7 linked regions of the Homo sapiens genome follow. The protein of the gene in region 2 purifies or fractionates together with the protein of the main gene of each other region. This does not show direct contact. Each region holds a gene or a part of one and is shown on either strand. Other genes may lie near its edges.

The links.
Region 1: the proteins of THBS3 (region 2) and MTPAP purify together in Homo sapiens (affinity purification with mass spectrometry; 3 studies listed by BioGRID and IntAct, with this or other methods). This does not show direct contact.
Region 3: the proteins of THBS3 (region 2) and SH3BP4 purify together in Homo sapiens (affinity purification with mass spectrometry; 3 studies listed by BioGRID and IntAct, with this or other methods). This does not show direct contact.
Region 4: the proteins of THBS3 (region 2) and MKS1 purify together in Homo sapiens (affinity purification with mass spectrometry; 3 studies listed by BioGRID and IntAct, with this or other methods). This does not show direct contact.
Region 5: the proteins of THBS3 (region 2) and IQSEC2 purify together in Homo sapiens (affinity purification with mass spectrometry; 3 studies listed by BioGRID and IntAct, with this or other methods). This does not show direct contact.
Region 6: the proteins of THBS3 (region 2) and DIP2A purify together in Homo sapiens (affinity purification with mass spectrometry; 3 studies listed by BioGRID and IntAct, with this or other methods). This does not show direct contact.
Region 7: the proteins of THBS3 (region 2) and PEX6 purify together in Homo sapiens (affinity purification with mass spectrometry; 3 studies listed by BioGRID and IntAct, with this or other methods). This does not show direct contact.

What each region holds. Positions count from the first base shown.
Region 1 is NC_000010.11:30,342,779-30,346,278, forward strand, and holds part of MTPAP (poly(A) RNA polymerase, mitochondrial precursor), read right to left. Parts: intron 1-3,500. UniProt on the Homo sapiens protein: Polymerase that creates the 3' poly(A) tail of mitochondrial transcripts. Can use all four nucleotides, but has higher activity with ATP and UTP (in vitro). Plays a role in replication-dependent histone mRNA degradation.
Region 2 is NC_000001.11:155,201,398-155,204,897, reverse strand, and holds part of THBS3 (thrombospondin-3 isoform 1 precursor), read left to right. Parts: coding exon 1-43; intron 44-1,358; coding exon 1,359-1,385; intron 1,386-1,592; coding exon 1,593-1,675; exon of another isoform or gene 1,676-1,760; coding exon 1,761-1,812; intron 1,813-1,937; coding exon 1,938-2,086; intron 2,087-2,496; coding exon 2,497-2,637; intron 2,638-2,783; coding exon of another isoform or gene 2,784-2,863; coding exon 2,864-2,941; intron 2,942-3,328; coding exon 3,329-3,481; intron 3,482-3,500. UniProt on the Homo sapiens protein: Adhesive glycoprotein that mediates cell-to-cell and cell-to-matrix interactions. Can bind to fibrinogen, fibronectin, laminin and type V collagen.
Region 3 is NC_000002.12:235,046,017-235,049,516, reverse strand, and holds part of SH3BP4 (SH3 domain-binding protein 4), read right to left. Parts: intron 1-3,500. UniProt on the Homo sapiens protein: May function in transferrin receptor internalization at the plasma membrane through a cargo-specific control of clathrin-mediated endocytosis.
Region 4 is NC_000017.11:58,209,256-58,212,755, forward strand, and holds part of MKS1 (tectonic-like complex member MKS1), read right to left. Parts: intron 3,180-3,500; coding exon 3,123-3,179; intron 1,768-3,122; coding exon 1,725-1,767; intron 1,470-1,724; coding exon 1,404-1,469; intron 1-1,403. UniProt on the Homo sapiens protein: Component of the tectonic-like complex, a complex localized at the transition zone of primary cilia and acting as a barrier that prevents diffusion of transmembrane proteins between the cilia and plasma membranes.
Region 5 is NC_000023.11:53,241,351-53,244,850, forward strand, and holds part of IQSEC2 (IQ motif and SEC7 domain-containing protein 2), read right to left. Parts: intron 2,122-3,500; coding exon 1,982-2,121; intron 560-1,981; coding exon 434-559; intron 1-433. UniProt on the Homo sapiens protein: Is a guanine nucleotide exchange factor for the ARF GTP-binding proteins.
Region 6 is NC_000021.9:46,535,391-46,538,890, forward strand, and holds part of DIP2A (disco-interacting protein 2 homolog A), read left to right. Parts: intron 1-1,833; coding exon 1,834-1,898; intron 1,899-2,055; coding exon 2,056-2,149; intron 2,150-3,092; coding exon 3,093-3,212; intron 3,213-3,500. UniProt on the Homo sapiens protein: Catalyzes the de novo synthesis of acetyl-CoA in vitro. Promotes acetylation of CTTN, possibly by providing the acetyl donor, ensuring correct dendritic spine morphology and synaptic transmission.
Region 7 is NC_000006.12:42,969,182-42,972,681, reverse strand, and holds part of PEX6 (peroxisome biogenesis factor 6), read left to right. Parts: intron 1-2,694; coding exon 2,695-2,797; intron 2,798-2,880; coding exon 2,881-3,014; intron 3,015-3,500. UniProt on the Homo sapiens protein: Component of the PEX1-PEX6 AAA ATPase complex, a protein dislocase complex that mediates the ATP-dependent extraction of the PEX5 receptor from peroxisomal membranes, an essential step for PEX5 recycling.

The sequences.
Region 1 (3,500 bases), on a different chromosome or scaffold from region 2:
TCATGCGCTCTGTATCAGGGAAATCAAAGAATTTAAAACCTCGTTACTGCCCATGAAGAGCTCCCTGATAATTTTACTAAGGAAAGAAAGAGGCTAGGAGTTTTACAATCACAGGGAATCAAGACAAGAATTGTGACAGTGAAGAATTAAATATTAATAACCCACTAGCCACAATGGGAAGGTCAACAAATGAACTAAGTATAGAGAGAAAAAAATTATTCAAGTTCTAAGAGAGTATTAAAGCACAAACCTGAATGTTAACAACTAATTTTTTTCCCCCAAGATTTTAACTTCCAGTTAAGTAGTTTAAGGTGTTTCTTTAAAAAGTCTGGAATGGTAGACTCTAGAGATCATAAACCACCAAGTCTGATATCAATACCCTTAACAAGGCCAGACGCGGTGGCTCACACCTGTAATCCCAGCACTTTGGGAGACGGAGGTGGGCGGATCACCTGAGGCCAGGAGTTTGAGACCAGCCTGCCCAAATTAGCCAGGCGTGGTGTCGTGTGTCTGCAGTCCCGGTTACTTGGGAGGCTGAGGTAGGAGAATCACTTCAACCCAGGAGGTTGCAGTGATCCGAGATTGCACCATTGCACTCCAGCCTGAGTGACAGAGGGAGACTGTCTCAAAAAAAAAAAAAAAATCTTAAAATTCCAAAGAAATTAAATAGAACAGAAAATGTAAATGATGTATAGAAATCAGCAGAAGCTTTTAGCCTCATTTTCTTCCAAAAGGCTATGAAACTGATGGATCAAGGAAATACTCCAAACCCACTATCTTACTATCTTTTTTCTTTTTTTTTTTAAAGAGACAAGGTCTCCCTCTGTCACCCAGGCTGGAGTGCAGTGGCACAACCCCAGCTCACTGCAATCTCCGCCTCCCAGGTTCAAGCGATTCTCATGCCTCAACCTCCCCAGTAGCCGGTATTACAGGCGTGCGCCACCACGCCCAGCTAATTTTTGTATGTTTAGTAGAGATGGGGTTTCACTACGTTGGTCAGGCTGGTCTTGAACTGCTGACCTCAAGCAGTCCTCCCTCCTTGGACTCCCAAAGTGCTGAAATTACAGGCATGACGCCACCACGCCAAGCCTGAAAATACAGCTTTTAACTATGTGCCTTCGCCTCCATTCCCAATGACAATTCTTTAACATCAATCTCTTATTTCAGGCCTGTATCACAATAATCTGACTCCTAAACTAGTCTCATTCACCCTAGTTTTGTTTTTCTCAAGCTATCCTCCACATAACTGCCAAAGTGTTCTTTATAAAATGGTCTTTTTTTTTTAAGTCTTATTCTTTGGCTTACCTGCTTAAATCCTTTAATGGTTTCCCCACTGCCTTTAGGATCACATCTCAACTCCATAGCATGGGTATAAAGTGCTTGCACCATGTCCCATCTCCCCTCTTTCATGTCACTTATACCATTTCTTTCTGTTGTACTTTTCACATATGGTACTCTACACACACAATACTATCACATGCTATGAACTATCTATGTCTTCTTCCTTCTGGTTGGAATGTCTACCTTCTCATTTTCTGTCTGGCAAACTCCCATTCACCCTCCAAATCTTGCTCAGGTCTGTGAAGACTTCTGACTCTCCATGGCAGAATCTCTTCCACCTCTGTATTACCTTACTTTAACAACTATGAAGGAATGTAATTCATAGTGTTATATTTATTTAACAATATGGAAGAATACTTTCTTCCATATTGAGGGCAGAGGCTATTCTTTTCAATTAGATCTCAGTCTACCAACTGTCCTTCCTCCAAGTGGTCCTTATTTCCTTCTCTTATGCTACAGGCTCTGCCTAGACCACCTTACCACCTTTTCAGTTGTGAATGCCACCTACACACTCGTCTCTGATTTTTACTGAGTCTAAACTGATGTCCAACTGCGTATTGTAAAAGTAAAGTCAAACAGCATAGAATTTTCTTTTTTATTTTCCAGACAGAGTCTCACTCTATTGCCCAGGCTGGAGTGCAGTGGTGTGATCTCGGCTCACCGCAATCTCCACCTCCAGGGTTCAAGCAATTCTCCTGCCTCAGCCTCCCGAGTGGCTGGGATTACAGGACCTGCCACTGCGCCAGGCTAATTTTTATATTTTTAGTAGAGAAGGAGTTTCACCATGTTGGTCCGGCTGCTCTTGAACTCCTGACCTCAGGTGATCCTCCTGCCTCGGCCTCCCAAAGTGCCGGGATTACAAGCGTGAGCCATGGCGCCCGGCCCAAACAGTGTAGAATTTTCTCAGGTAGAAGCATAAGTCCTCTCCCAGTCCTCTTACCCTAACAGCCAACCATTAAGTTGTGGTACTTACCTTTTCAGACATTTTCAAGGTATATGTAAACATATACACTTGTATCCATAGATACACATCTTTTACACAACTGAAATTTACTGAAATCTTACTATATATTCTGTAACATGCTGTAAGATATTTAATATATTGGGGACATTTTCCCGTATCAGAAGATACACATTTACTTTATTTCTTTTAAAAAGTATATACTCTTAAATATGTATTTATCATAGTTTAGCCAAATCTCTATTGATAAATATTTAGGTGGTTTACCATTTTTTCACTATTACAAACAATGCTGCAATGTCATCTGTATGCAATGTCTTTGCACATTTATGCAAATATATCCCTGCAGGTGGACTGCTGGCAAAGAGCAGGGATTACATTTGAGAATGAGATAGAAAAGTTTGATTAAAAAAAATGGAGCAATGTGCTTGAGAAGATGAAAAAGGTAGAATCTAAAGCCGTAAACAACAGTAGGTTAAGAATGATGTAGACACGATGACAAAGTTGTGAAGGCGGGAACAGAAAGTTGAGGTAATTTATTGCCTCACCAAAGGTTTATCAAATCTATAACAAATTAAAAGGAAGAACTAATAAGTGCTAATATTTTATGACAGATTGAAATGTGCAATGGTCTTGATAATACAATATGGTAAGCACAAACTAACATTAAGAAATGACTGAATAGGCCAGGTGCAGTGGCTCATGCCTGTAATCCCAGCACTTTGGGAGGTCAGGGAGGGTGGATCACTTGAGGTCAGAAGTTCCAAACCAGCCTGGCCAACATAGTGAAATCCCATCTCTACTAAAAATACAAAAAATTAACCAAGTGTGGTAACGCGTGCCTGTAATCCCAGGTACTCAAGAGGCTGAGGCAGGAGAATCGCTAGAAGGCAGAGGTTGCACTGAGCCGAGATAGCGCCACTGAACTCCAGCCTGGGTGACTGAGAGACTCCTTCTCAAAAGAAAAAAAAAAAAAAAAAGACAGAATACTATCCTGTATTTAGAATTAAAAACAAAATAAAGATGCATGCACGTAATGGGGGAAAAATTAACCTAGCAGTTTTATAAAAGAGGCCTGAAAGTCTGATGCATCATAGGAATGTCTTAACTTCTGGATTGAGGATAGGAAGAGAATGAATTCATATAAAGAACTTCAGGCCTTATTGAGACAAACGTTTTTAAAAATCCAAATTTAAGG
Region 2 (3,500 bases):
AGTGAGTGTCCATTCCAAGGGGACGAGTCCATCCACAGTGCAGGTAACACAGAGACTTGTTTGCTGACATTGGACCACGGATCCTGTGGCCTTTGGTGACTCCTGTCTTCTTGATCTCCCTCTCCCTTAAAACCCATTCCTTTGGCTCACCTGTTCCTAGGGTTTCTAACCCTGTTATTCCAAATCTTTCACCTGACTCCACAATCTCCAATACACCCATCCGAGAAAAAAAGTGATCTAAGAGAAGAATTGGTTAATTGCTTGGCCTTGGCTGACCAAGAGATACTGGTCTCGAGTATTTTTTTTTTTTTTGGTGATGGAGTCTTGTCCTGTTGCCCAGGCCGGAGTGCAGTGGTGCAATCTGGGTCACTGCAGTCTCCACTGAGTTCAAGTGATTCTCCTGCCTCAGCCTCCCAAGCAGCTGGGATTACAGGCGCCCTCCACCATGCCTAGCTAATTTTTGCATTTTTAGTAGAGATGGGATTTCACCACGTTGGCCAGGCTGGTCTCAAACACCTAATCTCAAGTGATGCACCCACCTCGGCCTCTCAAAGTGCTGGGATTACAGGCGTAAGCCACCGCGCCCGGCCTGGTCTCGAGTCTTTTATAGTTCTCACTGGCAGCTGTCACCAGCAATTTCTCTGAGTGTTGCCCATCTGCCTGGTCTCTCTGACAGGGATGTTCAGAAGCTCTCACCTAAATAAAAGACCCACCTTTCCCAGATATTTGAGGGAGAGCTCTTGAAGAAGGGAATGGGATGGCGGGTGTGGTGGCTCACACCTGTAATCCCAGCACTTTGGGAGGCTGAGGTGGGCTGATCCCTCAAGGTCCGGAGTTCAAGACCAGCCTGGCCAACACTGTGAAACCTCCTCTCTACTAAAAAATACAAAAAATTAGCTGGGCATGGTGGTGGGCACCTGTAGTCCCAGCTACTTGGGAGGCGGAGGCAGGAGAGTTGCTTGAACCCAGGAGGTGGAGGTTGTGGTGAGCAGAGATCACGCCACTGCATTCCAGCCTGGGAAACAGAGCAAGACTCCGACTCAAAAAAAAAAAAAATGGGGATATACTGGGGCCCTGGCCCTGCTTTGGGTCCATCCCTTCTGCCACTACCATGCCTAGGAACCAGGAGGATTTGGGTTCTAACTTCCTGTGAAGCAACTCCCTTAGAGGGCCTTTTGCCCCATAGAAGGAGCTGGCACTGCTTGTCTGCCAGCTCTGCCCTCCCAGCATCCAGCACCCCATCTTTATTCTGGGGCTCCAGCCCTGTCCCTGTCCTCACCTTCCTTCCTCCTTCTCACCAACCAGGCCTCTCTTCACTTCACCTCACCCCTCTGACTATGTTTTCTTCTCCTCTCCAGTGACCAATGCACTGCACTCCATTCTAGGTGAGTAGGCCACACTGAAGCGGAAGCGGGGAGCGGGGAGGAGGCCCCAGGCTCTGGCAGCTGCCTGAAACTAAGTCCTCTTCAGTCAGGAATGTAGTAGGTTTAAAGGCAGGGGTGGGCAGCCGTGGCAGGTACTGGCTTATTGCCCATGGAGGGCCCAGGACTGGTGCTCCAGTACTGAACCCCTCACACCCTGGGTCCCGACAGGGGAGCAGACCAAGGCGCTGGTCACCCAACTCACCCTCTTCAACCAGATCCTGGTGGAGCTGCGGGATGATATACGAGACCAGGTTTGGGTGGGCTGGCGAAGGGTGGCACTGATTCTGGGGTAGGGTGGCAGATGTCAAGTGCTGACTCCTCCCCATCCTTCTCCAGGTGAAGGAAATGTCCCTGATCCGAAACACCATTATGGAGTGTCAGGTGTGCGGTGAGTGGGAGAGCAGGGGAGGCTCCACATGACCGTGCCACGTTCCCCACCCAATGGCTTTGGCTTTCCCTTCTGGTGGCTTAAATAGTGACCACCGGGTAGCTCTGACTGTGTCCACCCCTCAGGCTTCCATGAGCAGCGTTCCCACTGCAGCCCCAATCCCTGCTTCCGAGGTGTGGACTGCATGGAAGTGTACGAGTACCCAGGCTACCGCTGTGGGCCCTGCCCCCCTGGCCTGCAGGGCAACGGCACCCACTGCAGTGACATCAATGAGGTGAGGGAGGTCAGAGCCCAGAAGGGTACAGAAAACTGGGGTGAGGATGTCAGGAGGCACCCAAGAGGGTGGGATAAATGCTGGTCCGGAGGAGAGGAATCTGGAGTTTAGGAGAGGTCAGAGGCAAGAGAAATGCAAGATGGGAGAGACAGAAGGCCTGGGGCAAAGACTGAAGGCCATACAGGGAAGGAGCTGGGGAAACTGCAGGGGAGGCTTGAGATGGTGACCAGTGGCATGGGGAGGGAGAGAGGGAACCCCGAGGGAAGTGGGGTGGGGACCAGGAGCACAAGGCAGTTGTGTGGGGAGAGCTGCACAAAGGGGAGACCTGGAGCAATGGTTCCTGGATCACAGGCAGGGACCTGAGTTTCCCAGAGGGCGGCCTGACCTCTGCCTTCTCATCTGGTCCCCAGTGTGCTCACGCTGACCCCTGTTTCCCGGGCTCCAGCTGCATCAACACCATGCCCGGCTTCCACTGTGAGGCCTGTCCTCGAGGGTACAAGGGCACACAGGTGTCTGGTGTGGGCATTGACTATGCCCGGGCCAGCAAACAGGTCAGACTGGGTAGTGTGTGTGGACAAGGGATCTTGGCCTTGTAGAGGCCAGGGGCTTCTGGGTTGGACATGGGACCCTTGTGATGAATGGGACATGGATGGCTTTGCATCGGCTTTGGGTCTGGGCTTAATGTTGATGTTCACAGATAAGGCCATACCAGTGTCCTCTGCTGTATCTGAGGAGACCCACCATAGGTCTGGTTCCACCCAAAGTCTGCCCCTTCAGGTCTGCAATGACATCGATGAATGCAACGATGGCAACAATGGTGGCTGTGACCCAAACTCCATCTGCACCAACACTGTGGTGAGCTGAATATCCTGAGTGTATTCTGGGGTGGTGGGAATGGTAAAACCCCAACCCCCGCCCCTTCTTACCTTCAAATTTCCTGCTGCCTTTCCTCCTCCCCAGGGCACTACACAGATTAGGTGTTCACATGGACTTGGTTTGGAATACTGGTTTGCCTCTTGCTAGCTCTTTAGCAGGTTATTTAACTTTTCTGAGCCTCAGCTTCCTCATCTGAAAACTGAGGCTGTTATCCACCCTGAAAGGTTGTCATGATAACCTAAAGGAGATACTGATATGCCTGGCATAACTGAGTGCCCAGCCCACACTCCGCAGGTGGAGCAGTGCTGGTCCTGGGTGCCTGGTGGGCTCACCCTCCTTCCTAAGATGCTGCCTCTCCACTCTTAGGGCTCTTTCAAGTGTGGTCCCTGCCGCCTGGGTTTCCTGGGCAACCAGAGCCAGGGCTGCCTCCCAGCCCGGACCTGCCACAGCCCAGCCCACAGCCCCTGCCACATCCATGCTCACTGTCTCTTTGAACGCAATGGTGCAGTGTCCTGCCAGGTGAGCTAGGCTTCAGGCG
Region 3 (3,500 bases), on a different chromosome or scaffold from region 2:
TCTGTGGTCCTGGGAAGGTGTGCTGGACCACCACAGGGTTTGACACGAAGTCACTCAATGTCCCCAACTCAGCTCTTTCGTGGCTACTCAGCACACACCAAGCTAATCTGGCTGTGTGCACAGCTGCCTGGCTCCAAAGTGGCCTCATTTTCTAGGTAACAGAACAGGTCAAAGTCACCTGCTTCTGACTCGAGTCATTCCTGGTGCGAGTGATCAAAACCGCTCTCTCCCCAGGGGAACTGGGCACAGGTCCCCAAGGTCCTGGGAAACACAGGTGTTCTCTGGCCCCTGGGAAGGAGAGCGCCTGGACTCCATCCAGGGGCAGCCAAGGTCCCATTTCCATGGATCCCAGATGAAAGGAGAGGTCGGCACTTCCAACACCAAGAATGAAGGCATCTCTCCCTCACTCACTTACACAACTTTTACTGAGCCCAGCCCTGGTTTAGTTTGTTACAAACCACCCACACCATCAACAAGGCATAACTGATGCATATTTTTAAAGGACAAATTTTGGGTGCCAACCAATTCTTAGCAATAGAAAAATTTCACAGCAGGAGGCTCTAGCTCTATGAACTTGATCCTTGCAGCTTCCTCTTTTTATGGGCACACAGGTACACCAGGAAACACTCGATGGACTGCTGCACTACCCTGGTTTCAACTGGAATTTTGTTACAGTGAGTACACCATGATTTCAGTCAGGGTGACTGAACTTTATAAAGGGACAGATAGTACTTTTGCCTTTGTGGGACACACGAAGCCTGAAAGCCACAGACGATGCAGATGGGAATGGGTGTGGCTGAGTTCCAACAAAACGCCATTGACAGGAATAGCGGGCCTGGCGGCCAGAGTCTGGGAACTTGCTTCAAGAGATATTCTTGTCCAGCCATGGTGGCTCACCCCTATAATACCAGCATTTTGGTAGGCTGAGGTGGGAGGATAGCTTGAGCTCAATGAGTTCCACACCGGCCTGGGCAACACAATCAAACCTTGTCTCTACTACAGACAAAAAAAAAAAAAAATTAGCTGGGTGTGGTGGCACCTGCTTGTAGTCCCAGCTACTTGGGAGGCTGAGGTGGGAGGACTGCTTGAGCCCAGGAGTTCGAGGCTGCAGTGAGCTGTGATCACACCACTGCACTCCCGCCTAGGAGACAGAGCGAGACCTTTTCTCAAAAAAGGGGCGGGGGAAAATACTCTTATAAAGTACAAAGAAATACAATTTAGGCTTTTTTGCTGCATGTTTATTCCATCCTGCTTCCTTCCCAACATGCCCCAAAACTCGAGGGGAAGCCTTCTGCACATGGCATCTGGACAATGGGCCCATCCTCCTTCCCTCTCCCACATTAACAGCCACAGGCTCTGGCTTTGGGGCTGCCTGGGAGGAATCCCTCAGGACCCCATCCAATGCACACTGTCCATCAACTCCTCCTCTTCTGGAGGTTAAAGTGGGTCTTCTCCCAATCCACAGAGAGTCCCTTCACACCACACCAGTCTTTCCCGCCCCAATGCGCCCCATGCACTTGCTAGCTTCCTTATTTCTGTTAGTTTTCAAGTCTCTTTGGGTTTATTCCGGCCCCCACTCCACTCCCAAAACAACCACCCTCCCTTGCTTTGCATCCCACAGCAACTCCTTCCCTTTCTCATAGAAACTTCTCTACAGAGCCCGACACGCCTATTTCCCTACCTCCCGCAACTTGACCAAAACGCCCCTGCTACAGCCATCACCGACGGCTCCAGGTCACCACACCCCACGGCTTCGTTCTTATGGTGGATCCAGGACCAGTTGTGACAGCTCACTCTGGCCCCTTAGGAAGTTCTCCCTGGGCCTGAGGCCACCGTGGGCTGCTTCTGCTCCCATGGCTGATGGCCACTGCCCACGGCTATCTCCAGCTGACTCCCCTTCCTTCCCCACCATAACAGAGACCATGTGCCGAGTGCTGACAGTATCCCGAGAATTGGGAATAGTCTCTTGCATCAAAAGGGCGCTGCTGAATGACTTTTCTGATTCTTAAAAAGCTGGGTTCCCTTTCAAAGGCCTCTACCACTGCCAGACGCTGCCCCTCCTCTTTGCCTGACGGGAGCCCACCGACCACGCAGTGTTTCTGGCCAGTCTACAGAGGATGCACAGCGAGGGTTTCATGTCCCCTGCTTCGCCTCTGACGCATCAGGGGGCTGAAAGAAAACCCTACCCTTGAATCATGCCACTGCCACCATTTTTTGTACATGGGACCCCTGAAGGAGCACAAGGCTTAAATGTGAATGTGCACATTTCTCCTTTCATAAATACTCATGACTCCCCCTACGGCTTATTGAATATGTATATTTGGCCACCAATATCCATAAATTCTTGTTGCCTTTGCCCCTCCCTTGAAGTGTCTGTTTTTGGCTTCTGGCAGGAGGCTCTGCTTCCCAACCTGTCAGAATAGCCACCCACAGGCTGCAACCCTTTATGAGGAATGAGGCTCTCCTTTCCAAATGAACAAACCTTGTCATTCTTCAGCTGACACCATCACGGACAGAGGCTCTGGTGGGAGAGAAGTGGCCAGGACAGAGGGGTGCTCTGAGTGCAGCCACAGCCATGCTGCTGGGAAGGGGCAGGCAGAGGTACGGGGATGCCTCACACACGGACTCTATCAAAAACAGGCACAAAAAGAATGGAAAGAGGAAATGGAACCACAGAACAGAAGCATGGTATGGCCACGTGAGAATGCCTCCCGCTTGGATTCTTAGCCCAGCCCAAGGCCTGCATTCATTCATTCATTCATTCATCATTCATTCATTCATCCATCATTCATTCATTCAATCACTTATCCATCTAGTACCTCAGTGATTCTTATGTGCCGGGGCCCTTCCTCTCATGGGACCTATGTTCAGTTAGAGTAATAATGAGAAACAAGTGCACAAGAACATAAACAAACTTGTTTCTTTTCTTCTCTTCCTTTATTTTCAAGACAGGGTTTCACTCTGTTGTCCAGGCTGGAGTGCAGTGCTGCGATCATAGCTCAGTGTAGCCTCGACCTCCTGGGCTCAAGTGATCCTCCCACCTCAGCCTCCCAAGTAGCTGGGACTACAGGTGCACACCAACACACCTGGCTGATTTAAAAAAAAAAAATTGGAGAGATGAAGCCTCACTATGTTGCTCAGGCTGGTCTTGAATTCCCGGGCTCAAGCGATTCTCCTGTCTCAGCCTCCCAAAGTGCTGGTATTACAGGTGTGAACCTCCATGCCTGGCCAAAACAAACCGCTTCTGATTCAAGAAACACCATGGAGACAGAGGATGATGGAGTGCGCGGGGCTGCAGAGAAGGACGTCCTGGAGAGACGGCATTTGAGCTGGCAGCTGAGGGAGATGAGGAGGTCTGGGAAAGGGAGCTCCAGGAAGAGGAACAGCATAGCATCTGCAGGAGCTGGAGGCCGGGCGAGCTGGGTGTGTTCAGGGCAGGGGTGCACAGAGCACAGTGGCCCCCAGGGTTGGGATGGGTAGGGCCAGATCTTACACGACTT
Region 4 (3,500 bases), on a different chromosome or scaffold from region 2:
GTTTCTTTATTCATTTATTCACACAATCAATCATTCATTTACCATTTACTGAGTGCCTGCTATGTGCTAGTATATCTTAGGGGTATCTTGGTAACTAGATAGAAAAGATCCCCATCTCTCATGGAGCTGACATTCTGGGGGAAGCAGGGAGACAGACAAAAACCAAACCAACAAGAGACTATTGGGTAGTGATGAGTGCTATACTAAAAACAAAACGGGGAAGGGACTGAGTGATTGGGAGGCTCATTTAGACTGGGTGGTAAGAGAAGGCCTCTCAGAGGCGACACAGGCTGAGACCTAAACTCAGAAAGAACCAGCCATGCTAAGATATGGCAGAAAGGGTTTCAGACAAAGGAAACGGCCCTTAAAAGGCTACAAGGTGGGAATGAACCTGGCTGGGAAGAATGACTGGAAGGTTGTATGGAAGAGATAGGCAGGGGCCAGCTCATTCAGGGTATCAAGTTTACATTTTACTCTAAGTGGGAGGGGAAGCTGTTGGGGTTTTCAGCTCAAAAGGGACATAACTTGTTTACATTTTTTAAAGCTCAACTTGGCTTTGGTGTCTGTGGCAAATCAACGGCAAATGGGAGCAAGGCAGGAAGCAGGGGGATACATCAGAAGTTGAATGCACTGGCCTAGACAAGAGATGGTGGTGGCTTGGTGTAGGGTGCTGGAGAGAACAAATAGGTTCACAACAGCTTTTGAAGACAGAACGGACAGGAACTGTTGACAGATTGGCTGGCTATAGGGAGCTAGGGAAAGTGAGGGATCAAGGATGTTCCCTAGGTTTTTGGCATCAACAACTCAGTAGATGACACTGCCATTCTGTTAGGATGGGGAAGACCAGGGAGGAGAGGTTTGAGGGAAGAGGAGGAATCAAGAGTTCTTTTTGGTCATGTTAGACAGAAATGACAAAAGAGGTAACTGGATATGAGTCTGGAGTCCAGGGAAAAGGTTAAGGCTAGAGGCAGAAACCTGGGAGTCTGAGACGTATTGATGGTATTTAAGCCATAGGATGGATGACGTTGCCCAGGAAGACTGCAGACAGAGAGTAACAGAAGGCCTTGGCTTAGCTGTGGGTACTCTCACGGTTTAAGATCAACAGAAGGGAAGGCATCACCCAAGAAGGATGAGGGGCCACCAGCGAGATAGGAGAGAGAAGTGTGGAGCCAGAAGCCAGAGAAGTGTGTCATGCAGCACAGTGGGCTCTGGAAAATGCTTCAGGAAGGTCAAGCGAGGTGAAAGCAGGGAAGTCTCCACTGGGTTTGGTAAAGTGGATGTGATCTATGACCTTGAAAAGAACAGTAACAGTTTCAGCAGAGGAGTGGGAAAGGAAGCCTGACCAAATGCCTCTAGATCTGTCTGAATGGGTATAAAAGGAGAGACTTAAGAATATTACTTACGAGCAGTTGGCAATTCTACAAAGAAGTGGACGTAGAGATTGTCATACTCATAGCCTTGGGCTGAAACTACGAGAGAAAACAGGAAGCTATTTTAGCTTTTTCTCCTACCACCCTTAGCACCCAACCCAATCCTGAGGGGCCTACACACCCTGAGAGCAAGTCTTTTGAGGGCCAGGAACCCTCTGCGTTTCCAGGAAAGACTCACCACTGAGTTTCCCAAGTACAGCAGACAAGGCCTCTACCAGAGTGGAGGAGACTATTCACAGCTCCATCTAGGCACGTGCCTAAGCATCAAGAGATCTATGCTAGCAAGACACTTACCGACCTCTCCATTTACAAAGAGCCGGAGGGCACCTGGGACAGTCTAAGGTGAAGAGAAGTGGGAAAGGATCAGCAGGCCTGGAGGGAATTGGCACTTCTCCTCCAGCCCCATCTACAAATCTGCAGACGACCTGCCACTAGGGGTCAGGCCCTGGGTGTCACTACTGCACTTTCTCCCCACCCTGACACTTCTCCACAGATCTGTTTCCTTCATTCCTAAGATTCACAATGTAGGGGGAAAGTACATAATTTAAATGGCAGTGAGGACAATGCACTATGGGAAATTATTCAAGCAACAGCAACTGTCCTGTGGTGTGCAATGGGAAGCCAGAACGCCCTCTTCCCTTTAGATGGCTGAGGTCAAGAAACCAGGGAGTTTTCTTTTTTAATTATTTGTGCATGTCTTATCTAACTTTTAAATACTGAATATCTGTTGCTTATGCAATATGGAAATAGTGAAGGTTAATTTTTCAGAGAAAGAGAGGGAGACCAGGAAGTAATTCTATCCTTGTTTCCAGGTCTAGAGATAGAACTCTTAGAATGAGAAAAGACAAAGAACAGCACAACAGAATAGCTGAACTAAACCACTTTCTTTTTTTTTCAGACAGGGTCTTGATCTGTTGTCCAGGCTGGAATGCAGTGGTGTGATCATAGCTCAATGCAAACTCAAACTTCTAGGCTCAAGCAATCCTGCTGCCTCAGCATCATGAGTAGCTGGGACTACAGGTATGTATCACCATGCCTTGCTAATTTTTTTTTTTTTTTTTGTAGGGATGTGGTCTCACTATGTTGCCCAGGCTGCTCTCAAACTCCTGGCTTCAAGTGATCCTCCCACCTTGGCCTCACAAAGTGCTGGGATTATAGTCATGCGCCACCGCATCAGGCCTATATTTTTTAAGAGCCAAAATATGTGACAAACAGAAATGGCACCCCTGCCTCTCTATGGGGTATTTTGAAAAAATATCCACATGAAAGGTGAAGAAGACATTTTTCATCCTTATATTTATTTTTTAAATTAATTATAAAGTAATACCTAAATACATTACAACTGATAAAAATTCAAAGCTACCTAAGTTTAGGGAATAAAAAGCAAAAATCCCTAATATATCCCTCTCACCACCCACTACCCTTCTACCACATCTAATCCCACCCTCCCCAGAGAAAGCCACCCACAGCATGTGCATAGCCTTTCAGACCTTTTTCTTAGCATTAACAGTTCTCTATCAACATGCAATGTTGCAAAACACATAACAAGGACTATATGTGCTATTCTTTGACTTCCTTTTCACACTGTAGAGTATACCTTTGGGCCTTTAAGAGAGGTAGTGTAACTCATCCACAGTCAGAATGCTCCGGCTAAACACAGCTCACAGTGCTGCAGGAAGCCAAGCTACTCACCATCTCAAAGTCGGTGCCTACGAGGCTGCTGAGATACTCCTTGTGCCGGCCATAAAGCTGAGGAAACAAACCAAACCAAAACTCAAGATGCAACCCAAGCTAGACCAAAGTTCAGTTCTGAATGGGAAGAAGAAAAGCAATAGTGGGAAGGGTCAGCAAGAGCTGGAGGCGTAAGCACCTGACTCACCGCCATTTTACCGTGAAGCAGAGGCCCTGGAGTCAGCTGGTCTGGGGCAGAATCCTGACTCTCGCCCTTACAAGCTATGCCACCTTGGGCAGACTACTTAGCTCCTCAATCTCGGTTTCCCCACTTATAAGGTGGTAATAAGTGTTCACCTCAAAGGGTTGTTGTAAAGACTAAAGGAAATAAGGTATGTA
Region 5 (3,500 bases), on a different chromosome or scaffold from region 2:
AACTGCCCTGGCCTCCCAAAGTTCTGGGACTATAGGTGTGAGCCACAGTGCCGAGCCCACTTCAAGCATCTTGATTACTGAAGATTTCCAGACTGACCTGGGGGGTCGCAGGTTCACCCCTCTTCACACAACCCTATGGGCTATTGAGGTGGACAGGGATATTTCCTACCACTTCCCAGGTTGTAAGTCTGTCATCTCCTTTGGTCCTCATATTTTCTGTCCCTGTGTGTCTGTTACTACCTCCAAATGCATCTGTGAGGAAAAGGAGGGGCAGAGAAGGCCTGGGCCTTGCCTGAGACCATGCAGATGGCATGGCAGAACACCTCGCCCGCCACACTCCACACACCACACACCTACATCAATATGGTTCACACCAGACTTAGGTGTCAAGCTCACTCTCTCCCTCCCATCTCCTCCCCCACAGTGCTCATACCACAAGGAGATCATTGAAGAGGAAGACCTCCCGCTGATGCAACCCTAGCCTCTGGGGGCGGTTTGGATCTGGCACCTCGTAGAGCTGGCAGCAGCAAACCAGTCGACGGTGAGGGAGAGACAGGACCTAGACAGGCATGAAGAAACAGGTGTCAGCAAGGCCAGCCCATCAGCTTCAGGCCTCCTGGCACCTTAACTTTCAACCGCAAGAAGTTTACCACTCATACATGTGTGTCACTCTGACACAAGGGGTATCAGCAACTAAGACCTAAACTTATCTGCTACCTTGCCTTTGCCCTTCTGTCTGGAATGTCTTTCTTGCCCAGCTCTGCATGGTCATATTTCAACTCCCTTTCAAATTTCCATCCCGGCCGGGCGCAGTGGCTCACGCCTGTAATCCCAGCACTTTGGGAGGCCGAGGCGAGCGGATCACTTGAGGTCAGGAGTTCGAGATCAGCCTGGCCAACATGGTGAAACCCCGTCTCTACTAAAAACACAAAAATTAGCTGGGTGTGGTGGTGGGCGCCTGCAATCCCAGGTACTCAGGAGGCTGAGGCAGGAGAATCGTTTGAACCCAGGAGGTAGAGGTTGCAATGAGCCGAGATCATGCCACTCCACTCCAGCCTGAGTGACAGAGTGAAACTCCATGTCAAAAAAAAAAAAAAAAAAAAAAAAAAATTCAATCCCAAAATGATCTCTTCCAAGAAGCCTTCCCTGATTTCTCCAGGCTGAAAATGGTCTCTCTCTCCTTTCTCCTCTCCTAAACTGGACCATAAAGCAGAAGTATTATATGTGTCTTTGTTTCACACCCCGACTGGTCTGTGAGTGCCCCCAAGGATAGAGAACACGTCTGATTCATATCTATGAATGCCCAGCACCAACTCTGGTGCCCAGCAAATGCTGGGCTCAGTGGAAAGGCATCCACAAATGTTTGTTGGCTAAAGCGTTTTCTTTTTTTTTTTCTTTTTTTGAGACGGAGTCTTGCTCTGTGGCCCCAGGCTGGAGTGCGTTGGCACGATCTCAGCTCACTGCAACCTCCGCCTCCCGGGTTCAAGCAATTCTCCTGCCTCAGCCTCCTGAGTAGCTGGAACTCCAGGCATGCACCATCACGCCCGCAGCTAATTTTTGTATTTTTAGTAGAGACAGGGTTTTGCCATGATAGCCAGGCTGGTCTGGAACTCCTGACCTGAGGTGATCCACCCACCTCGGCCTCCCAAAGTGCTGGGATTACAGGCACAAGCCATTGTACCTGGCCTAAAGTGTGTTCTTACTTTGGTTTTCTGCTAACCATTAGCTTGGCTCTTCACTTAGGATGGACAGGCAAAGCCGGAGGTGAAAAGGATGCTAATATTTATATAGTACCCACTATGGGCCTTGGAATGTGCTCGATGCATTCACTCTGCACCACAGCCTTCTGAGGAATGCATTATCACCCACTCTGTATTGCAGGTAAAGGGCACCTGGGGCTCAGGGAGGTGCAGTGACTTACCACTTAGTGGCAGAGGCAGACCTGAACCCTGGCCCCTCTGCAGCCTCCCAAGGCACTTACTGGTTTCTTTCCAACAATCATGCGCTCCACAGCCTGCACCTGGGACACATGGTCATCGTTGGTCCGCAGTTCACGCCCCTGGATGCGCTGGTAGATGCCCACCAGGAGGTCTCGGGGGATGTCTTCACCATTGTCAACCCCTGGGGGAGGGAGTAACACAGGGATATGTCACATAATTATGGGCACTGGGTGGTAGGGGTGCTCCACCACCCCCACACCCAGGCACGGGCCACGATAGTCAGGACTGAGGGTCAATGGGTACCCTCGGCCCCTTAGCCAGGATTGGGGCAGGGAGGGTGTCCTTCAGTACAACAGCCAGTTGCTATCTTCCCCAGAGTGGGGAATTTTTTCTCAACAACTCAGAATACACTGTAATTAAAACAATCAGATACTATTGTTTGCCTTCCTAATTAGCAAAAATAATTTAAAATGAAATCCAGTGCTAGGAAGAGTGCAGGGAAGTGGGCATGTATGGTAACATAACTCTTTTGGAAGGTAATTTGGCAAGAACCTAAATGTTTGTACCCAGTGATTCTCTTCTAGGAATCTACCCTAAGGAACTACTCAGAAATATGTGCAAGAGGTATGTGCAAGAATGCTAGTGCAGGCGGGGCATGGTGGCTCACGCCTGTACTCCCAGCACTTTGGGAGGCCGAGGCAGGTGGATCACGAGGTCAGGAGATCAAGACCATCCTGGCCAACATGGTGAAACCTCATCTGTACTAAAAATACAAAAAATTAGCCAGGCATGGCACCATGTGCCTGTAGTCCCAGGTACTCGGGAGGCTGAGGCAGAATTGCTTGAACCCGGGAGGCAGAGGCTGTAGTGAGCCAAGATCGCGCCACTGCACTCCAGCCTGAGCAACAAGATTGAGACTCTGTCTCAAAAAAAAAAAAAAGAAAAAGAAAAAAAAGAATGCTAGGGCAGGCGTGGTATAATCCCAGCACTTTGGGAGGCTGAGGCAGGTGGATCGCTCGAGCCCAGGAATTCGAGAGCCAACCTGGGCAACATGGCAAAATCCCATCTCTACAAAAAATACAAAAATTAGCTGGGTGTGGTGGCACACACCTGTGGCCCCAGCTACTTGGGAGGCTGAAGTGGGATAATAGCTTGAGCCTGGGAGGAGGAGGTTGCAGTGAACCATGATTGCACCACTGCACTCCAGCCTAGGCAACAGAGCAAGACCCTGTCTCAAAAAAAAAAAAAAAAAACTCACTAAGTGTTACTTATGGGGACAATTTGAAACAACCTAAATTTTAACAATAGAGGATAGTATATCCATTTAATAAGATAATGCACAGCTATTAAAAACTTGACATTTACAAAAACATTTCAATAGCATGAGAAAATTACAGTAGCAAATTATGGGAAAAGAGTAAGATAAATTGCATGTGTGGTATGATCTGAACTATATAAAAAGTTACATATGCATGGGGGAAAAGATTAGAACGCACCAAAACATTAACTATGATTGCCTCTAGGGGGCACATTTTGGGTGATAAAAAGAAATTTTCTAAT
Region 6 (3,500 bases), on a different chromosome or scaffold from region 2:
GAGTGAAATTGAATGGTATGTCTAAATATCTAAAATATAGGTGTTCAGGCCAGGTGCAGTGGTTCATACCAGTAATCCCACCACTTTGGTAGGCTAAAGCAGGAGGAACACTTGAGGTCAAGAGTTTGAGAGCAGCCTGGACAACATAGTGAGACCCTGTCTCTACAAAAAAAGGGAGAAATTTTAAATAGAATTTTTAAAAAAGAAAAAAATATAGGTGTTTAAAAGCAAGGGTATAAGTTGAGGGCACAGCTAAAGCTTTTACTTGAGATTTGGAAAGTGATTTTAGGTATTTTTTAAGGGCTTTATTAAAAAAGTTAGATCTTTCAGATCAAGCCCCGTGACTTTCTTTGTCTTCAGCTCAGAGCTGATCTTACATATGTCACCTACAATTTGGGTTCTTTAGCCAGGCGTGATGATGTGTGCCTATAGTCCCAGCTACTCGGGAAGCTGAGGTAAGAGGACCGCCTGAGCCCAGGAGTTTTGGGCTGTAGTGGGCTGTGCTAACCAGGTATCTGCACGAAGTTTGGCAGCAACATGGTGACCTTCTAGGAGTGGGGAACCACCAGCTTGCTAAGGAGGGGTGAACCGACCCAAGTAGGAAAGGGAGCAGGTCAAAACTCCCATGCCAATGAGTAATGGGATTGTGCCTATGAATATTCACTGCACTGCAGCCTGGCAACGTAATAAGACCTCGTCTCTAAATAATAATGATAATAATTTGTGTTCTTAACCAACAGAGAAAGGGTGTTTATAGTACTGTTATTCATGGTGCAACAGCATTTCCTGGCACACAAATCAAACCTCTCCTGTTTGCCTTTGGAGTGCTGTGGCCTTTGGCGAGAAGCCAGGTCTGCCCACAGCCCCAGGCTCTGTCCTTTCTGCCTGTGCAAGGTGGGAGCCGGATATTAGAGAAGACTTGGCCAGGGGCTCTGAGCAGAGAGCTGTGCTGGGAACCCTCAGGACCCCTATCCACTCCAGCTTCCTAAGATGTGTTAGCTGCATACCTCTGGGTGAGAAAACGGGCAGAGGAAGAGTGACTTTCCGAAGGGTGATGCAAACCACCAGCTCTTACAGAGGGGAGATGCCGGATCACGGCCTCTGGGTGTGAGAATTGAGGAGATGTGGTGTAGAGTTGAGAAGTAAGAATATCCCTGACAGTTTTTCATCCCCACCTCTTGATTCTGAGAAGAATACCCACTCAAAAATATCTGATGAGAAGATGTGGAGAGGCCGAGTGCGGTGACTTACACCTGTAATCCCAGCACTTTGGGAGGCTGAGACGGGCAGATCACTTGAGGTCAGGAGTTTGAGACCAGCCTGGCCAACGTGGTGAAATCCCTTCTCTACTAAAAATACAAAAATTAGCCAGGCATGGCAGCGCATGCCTGTAGTCCCAGCTACTCGGGAGGCTCAGACAGGAGAATTGCTTGAACCTGGGAGGCGGAGGTTGCAGTGAGCTGAGATTGCTCCATTGCACTCTAGCCTGGGCAACAGAGCAAGACTCTGTCTCAAAAAAAAAAAAAAAGAAGAAAAGACAAGCTGTGGTGACACCTTGTATAGCTTCTTCAGTATGTGATGTTCCTGTGCCTTCTGATTAGTGCTCAGCGTGGTTCTCTGTGTTAGTTCCATGACCTTCTACTTTTATGTGTTTCCAGTAATTTGAATAGATAACCAGGATTATTATTAATTGGTATGTGGTATTTGGAAATGCTGTATCTGTTCCTGAAACTTACATGTTGATGACGTACTCACCTCAGAATTTCTCTAGAAAATGCATAGGGCTTATTGAGAGGGTTGCTCAGTGGTGTCACCTTCTTTGTCCACTTGCAGCTGAAACATTAACAAACGTGCTGGATTTCAAAAGGGATGCTGGTCTGTGGCATGGCGTGTTAACAGTGAGTGTTGTTTGCTGATGACTAACTGTTGGAACAAGGGATTGAGATGAACCCAAGCCTCTGCCTGAAATGTTGTTGGGAGAGTACATCGGTTTTGTTTTGCTTTTTCTGGTGTGGCTCGGGCCCACTCGCCCTAAGCATGTGTGCTCCCCCACAGAGCGTCATGAACAGGATGCACGTGGTCAGCGTCCCCTACGCGCTGATGAAGGCGAACCCACTCTCCTGGATCCAGAAAGTGTGCTTCTATAAAGGTAACGGATACCATGGTCAGGGCCTTCACCCTTCTTTAGGGAAATCTCTTTGAACTGACCTTTGGTGCTTAAGAAAAAATAAAGCTGACATGTGGAACTGCAGATGTAGGCTGAAGAGCTGTGGGACGTCTTTCTTGGTCACACCCCTGCCCAGGAATATGGGGGCTTTCTCTGCCTCTGGCATGGCCCTCAGGGTTTCGTGGGTGATGTGGTAAGTAGGGCCACTTGGTGGGGTCTGGGCCTTACTTCTCTCAACGGTTGAGGTGCCTCCTGGGACCAAGCAGGAGGCCCCAGCATGGCCACACCTGCACAGTTGGCAGTCTGTGTCTCTGCCCTGTGGAGCTCAGTGGCACTTCTACCAGCCACTGAGGCACTGGATCACCTGGGTCACCCATGTTGCCTTGTTCTACCTACTGGGCTGTGCCCCTCTAGACATGTCTCAGAGCAGTGTGGAGGGGCAGCTCTCTCTGTCTGTCCTACTTTATGGAGGGAAACTGAAGCTTGGGTAGGGGTGGGGGGATTGCTGGATTCCACATGCTAGCCAGTGCAGGGGCCAGACTGAGGCCTGAGACCATCTGTTTAGCTTCTGGGGTCCTCACACTTCTCAGCCAGCACCAGGGGTTTGGGGAAGGACAACATGAGATGAAGCGGGCAGATAGGAAAAGAGCAATATGGAGCTTCTAAGAAAAAATTAATGTTGGAAATGGATCTGAGGTTTTGATGTCTAAATTGTACCTCAGAGTTGATTTTTGTGGAAAAAGCTTTGAGGGTTTGTTAGACTGCATGTGAGAGACGGCTGCAGAGAGCTTGTGACCTGGGAGCTAAGTGTTGTGTCTGTCTGTGCATGTACACCTCTCTGTGGGATGAGGTACACGTGTCTGTAGGCGTGTGAGGGTGCCAGTCCTTGTGACGCAGGGATGTCTGTGCCATCCTCTCTCTGCAGCTCGGGCCGCGCTGGTGAAGTCGCGAGACATGCACTGGTCTCTCCTAGCTCAGCGGGGCCAGAGGGACGTCAGCCTCAGCTCACTGCGCATGCTGATTGTGGCCGATGGTGCCAACCCGTGTGAGTGAGCCTGTGTGCCCGGCGCATACCCCACACAGTGTCCCCTCCTGCAAACCAAAGTAGAATACACTGAGAAGCAAAATGGAGGCATTTTCACTGCCATTGTCATATAGATACACATGTCCCATCGTTTCTATGACACGGAACATCTTGGTGATTCACTGGTTTATCCCATGCATGTTTATTAGGCCACTAAATTTAAAAGCAATTTTAATATGCTTGATGAAAGGTACATGCCTTAATGAGAGTCATCTTTCTTAAGAAATTACCAGATTGTGCTGTGGCCTG
Region 7 (3,500 bases), on a different chromosome or scaffold from region 2:
TCTCCTGCCTCAGCCTCCCAAGTAGCTGGGACTACAGGTGCCCACCACCACGCCCGGCTAATTTTTTGTATTTTTAGTAGAGATTGGGTTTCACCGTGTTAACCAGGATGGTCTCGATCTCCTGACCTTGTGATCCGCCCGCCTCGGCCTCCCAAAGTGCTGGGATTACAGGCGTGAGCCACCGCACCCAGCCAGGGATTTCTATTGTTTTTGAGAGGGCTACCCTGTCCTATCAACAGAGAATGAGAAATAGAGCATAACCGAGCCAAGAACCCAAAATAAGGAATCCAGCTTTTCTCCTCTTGTTGACTCTGACCACAGAGGTTCCATGTAAAATGGTGAGGCAAAGAATTGAGACACTGCTTTAGCCTTATGTGTAGGGAGGAAAATGTATAGCTCTGTATCCCAGCATTCCCTGTATTCTGGACTCATTTCCTGCAGCAGTTTACTAGAAGGAGAGCACAGCTGATAGATGCACTAACTCATACATAAGAGCCTTCATGTCCAAGGTCTGTGGCATAGCCAGCCTGGGTCCTCTGCCAGGAGAGACAGTCCTTGTTTGGAGTGCCTGATGTTCATCCCTGGTCAATATCCAGTGCTTGGTTCTGGCCAGTGCTCAGTACCCCCAGTCTCAGGGTGGTGGTGCTCTGTGGAACCCCATTTAGGCTCCATGTCACCTCTTCGAGGTTTTCCAGATTAAGTCCACGAGTCTGGTGGAAAATGCCAGGCTGGCACTTAGCAGTCACTTCCCACCTCTCTCTCCTATCATAAATTTAGCAAACGTCTTTGAGCTAGCTTTCAGTAGGAAAACTACAGAATGCCCACTCTTTGTACTTTCAAAGGAAAATAGGCACTAGAACCTCATGAGACAGGCTGGCAAGCCAGTTCTGTTCCTGAACTTCTATTGTCTCAACTCTGTAGAACCCTGCTTTCCTCCTGAGTGCCGAGCACATAGTTCTTTTCCCCGCAAGGAAAGCAGGGTTGGAGTAAGTGGCCCAATGGGTCCAAGGACAGATACAGATGAGCGTTTTAAGCTGCACTGGGCTTGAGAAGGGAAGCCCTGCAGAAGTTCCTGTGAGCCCTGGAAAGGAATTCCACTGTTGGTGTAGCCTCTTCATCCTGTCCCTGGTGCTCCACTTCCCCAAACCAGGCTGCATGGGAGCCAGCTCCACTATCACCTATCTGGCTGGCTGGAGCACAGCTCAGTGTTCCTTAGCAGTGTCCACATAGGTTCCAGAGCTCTGGCCTTTCTATTCACTGAGGTGGTCCAACCACCCTCCACTGAAGAAGGTGGTCTCTCCCTATGCCACAGTGCTGTCCCCCATCTCATTCCTATGCAGGGCTTCCATGGTGAGTCATACACACCATGACTCAGCTGTTGAGCTTGATCGAGATCCTAGGTTAGAGGCCCACTGTCACCTATTTATAATTAATTATAGGCAGATTCAGGCTTCCTGATGTTCCAGGTTTACTGTAGTACTTAGAAGAGTTTCATAATACTAACCTGGTATGCTTCCCCTCCACCTTGCTGCACTCTCACACCCCTTTGCTGCTAGAGAGAGCAGCTTTGAGACTGTGGGGCAGTGTGAGCAGAGGAATTTGCAGCCTGATTGGACCTTAAAGAGGACTAGGTTATAGCCTGACTCTGTCATTGCCTTGCTGCCTGAGGATTAAAGAGGGAAGTAGTTCATGATTTCTTTATCTGGAAAATTGGGTTAGTAGCTGTTCCTGCTACCCATCCTATTCCCCGTTAGTAGGTTGAATAACCCTAACTCACTATGACACTCGCCAACTACTGCGCAGCCCTGGTTATGCATCAGAATTGCTGGGGAAGCTTTCAAAAAATACAGGTGCCTAAGCCCCACCCCAGATCTATTGGGGCAGAATCAGGGTGAGACTGGAGCCTGTGCTTTTTTTCCTTCACAAAGGAAGGAGAAAGGTTAATTTTAAAAACATAAAATTCACACACCATAAAACCATACTTTTAAAGTATACAATTCAATTTTTTTATTCATAAGGTTGTACAGCCAACATCACTGTTTCATTCCAGAACATTTTCAACATCTCAAAAAGAAACTCTGCACCCATTAGCAGTCATTCCCTGTAGCTTCCCTCATAGGCAATGGCAACTGCTGATCTGCTGAATAGAATCATATAATATGTGAGAAATGTTTAGTTTTTAAAGTTACACAGATAATTCCAATGTGCAGCCAGAATACAGAACCATTATTCATCAGATGGCATTATTAAGGACTCCGCCTGCAATGAGATTTTGTGGATTATTGAGTAAGAGCCAAGGGACCCTTCCCCCTAGGGTTTTTGGGGCCTGGATGGCTGTGTATTTGAGGGGGAGACCGAAGCCAGTAGAAGTAATCAGATGATCCACTGCTTAGTGCAGCAGCAGCTTCTCCCATTGGTGTGGGTGGGTAGGCCACATGCCTGGAGAAACACACCCCCTCAGAGCTCTCATGGCTGTCATGGGGGATGCAGAGGGACAGGCATAGCTCTTGCCCTCAAGGTGTGTATGGTCTGTCAGGAAGATGAGAAAGTCCATCTGCATTCCTTTTCCCCACCATGACTCGGGACACGCTCTTGTGGTGCTTTTGTTTGTCCTCTGTGATTGAGAAACCTTGTCCTTGAGGAGGGGGGTTTTTGGACTCTGGATCTGGGGTTCATTGGGCCTTTTTCCTGCAGGTGGCGGGAAATGTTTTTTAAAGTGAAGAAAACAGTTGGGGAAGCTCCAGATGGACCAGCCAGTGCCTACTTGGCCGACACCACCCATACCTCCTTGTACATGGTGAGGCCCCAAGGATGGGTGTAGACCAGCGCAGGGGGTAGAAACGATTTTTAGAAACGAAAGCTTTTTATTACCTTTCACAGGTGGGTTCTACCCTGAGCCCTGTTCCATGGCTCCCTTCAGAGGAATCCACTCTCTGGAGCAGTTTGTCTCCTCCAGGCCTGGAGGCCTTGGTGTCTGAACTCTGTGCTGTCCTGAAGCCTCGCCTCCAGCCAGGGTGAGTGAGGTCATCACCCCAGGGTGTGAGAAAAGCCTGCTTAGAACATCCCTGGAGGAGCAGCAGCCAGATGGGTAGTTCCTAATGAACTGGCCAGAGTGGGATTGGGAGGACCTTCCTCAAACCAGTATGTCCTACACAAGGCCACCAGGCCACTCCTTTCTGTAAGCCAATTCCCAGGCTCCTTTCCTGGGATAACCTCTGTCCTCCAGGGCTGGCTCTGGAGGAAGAATCTCCAGCAGGGGCATCTGTTTCTGAGACTGCCCTTCCCCTTGGGGAGCTCACTGGCCATCCTGCACTTTACTGCCCTGGCCCTGAAGGACACAACTCCTCATACCAGTGGCCCAGGTGTGGACGCAGATCCCCACCTCAGTGCCACCACAATGTCTCTCAATACCATTCAGACCAGTCATAACGTTGAGGTTTTATTGGCAGCACAGCAATGCCAAAGGGAATTAATTAGTCTTTGGCTGTTGGATATGCTGG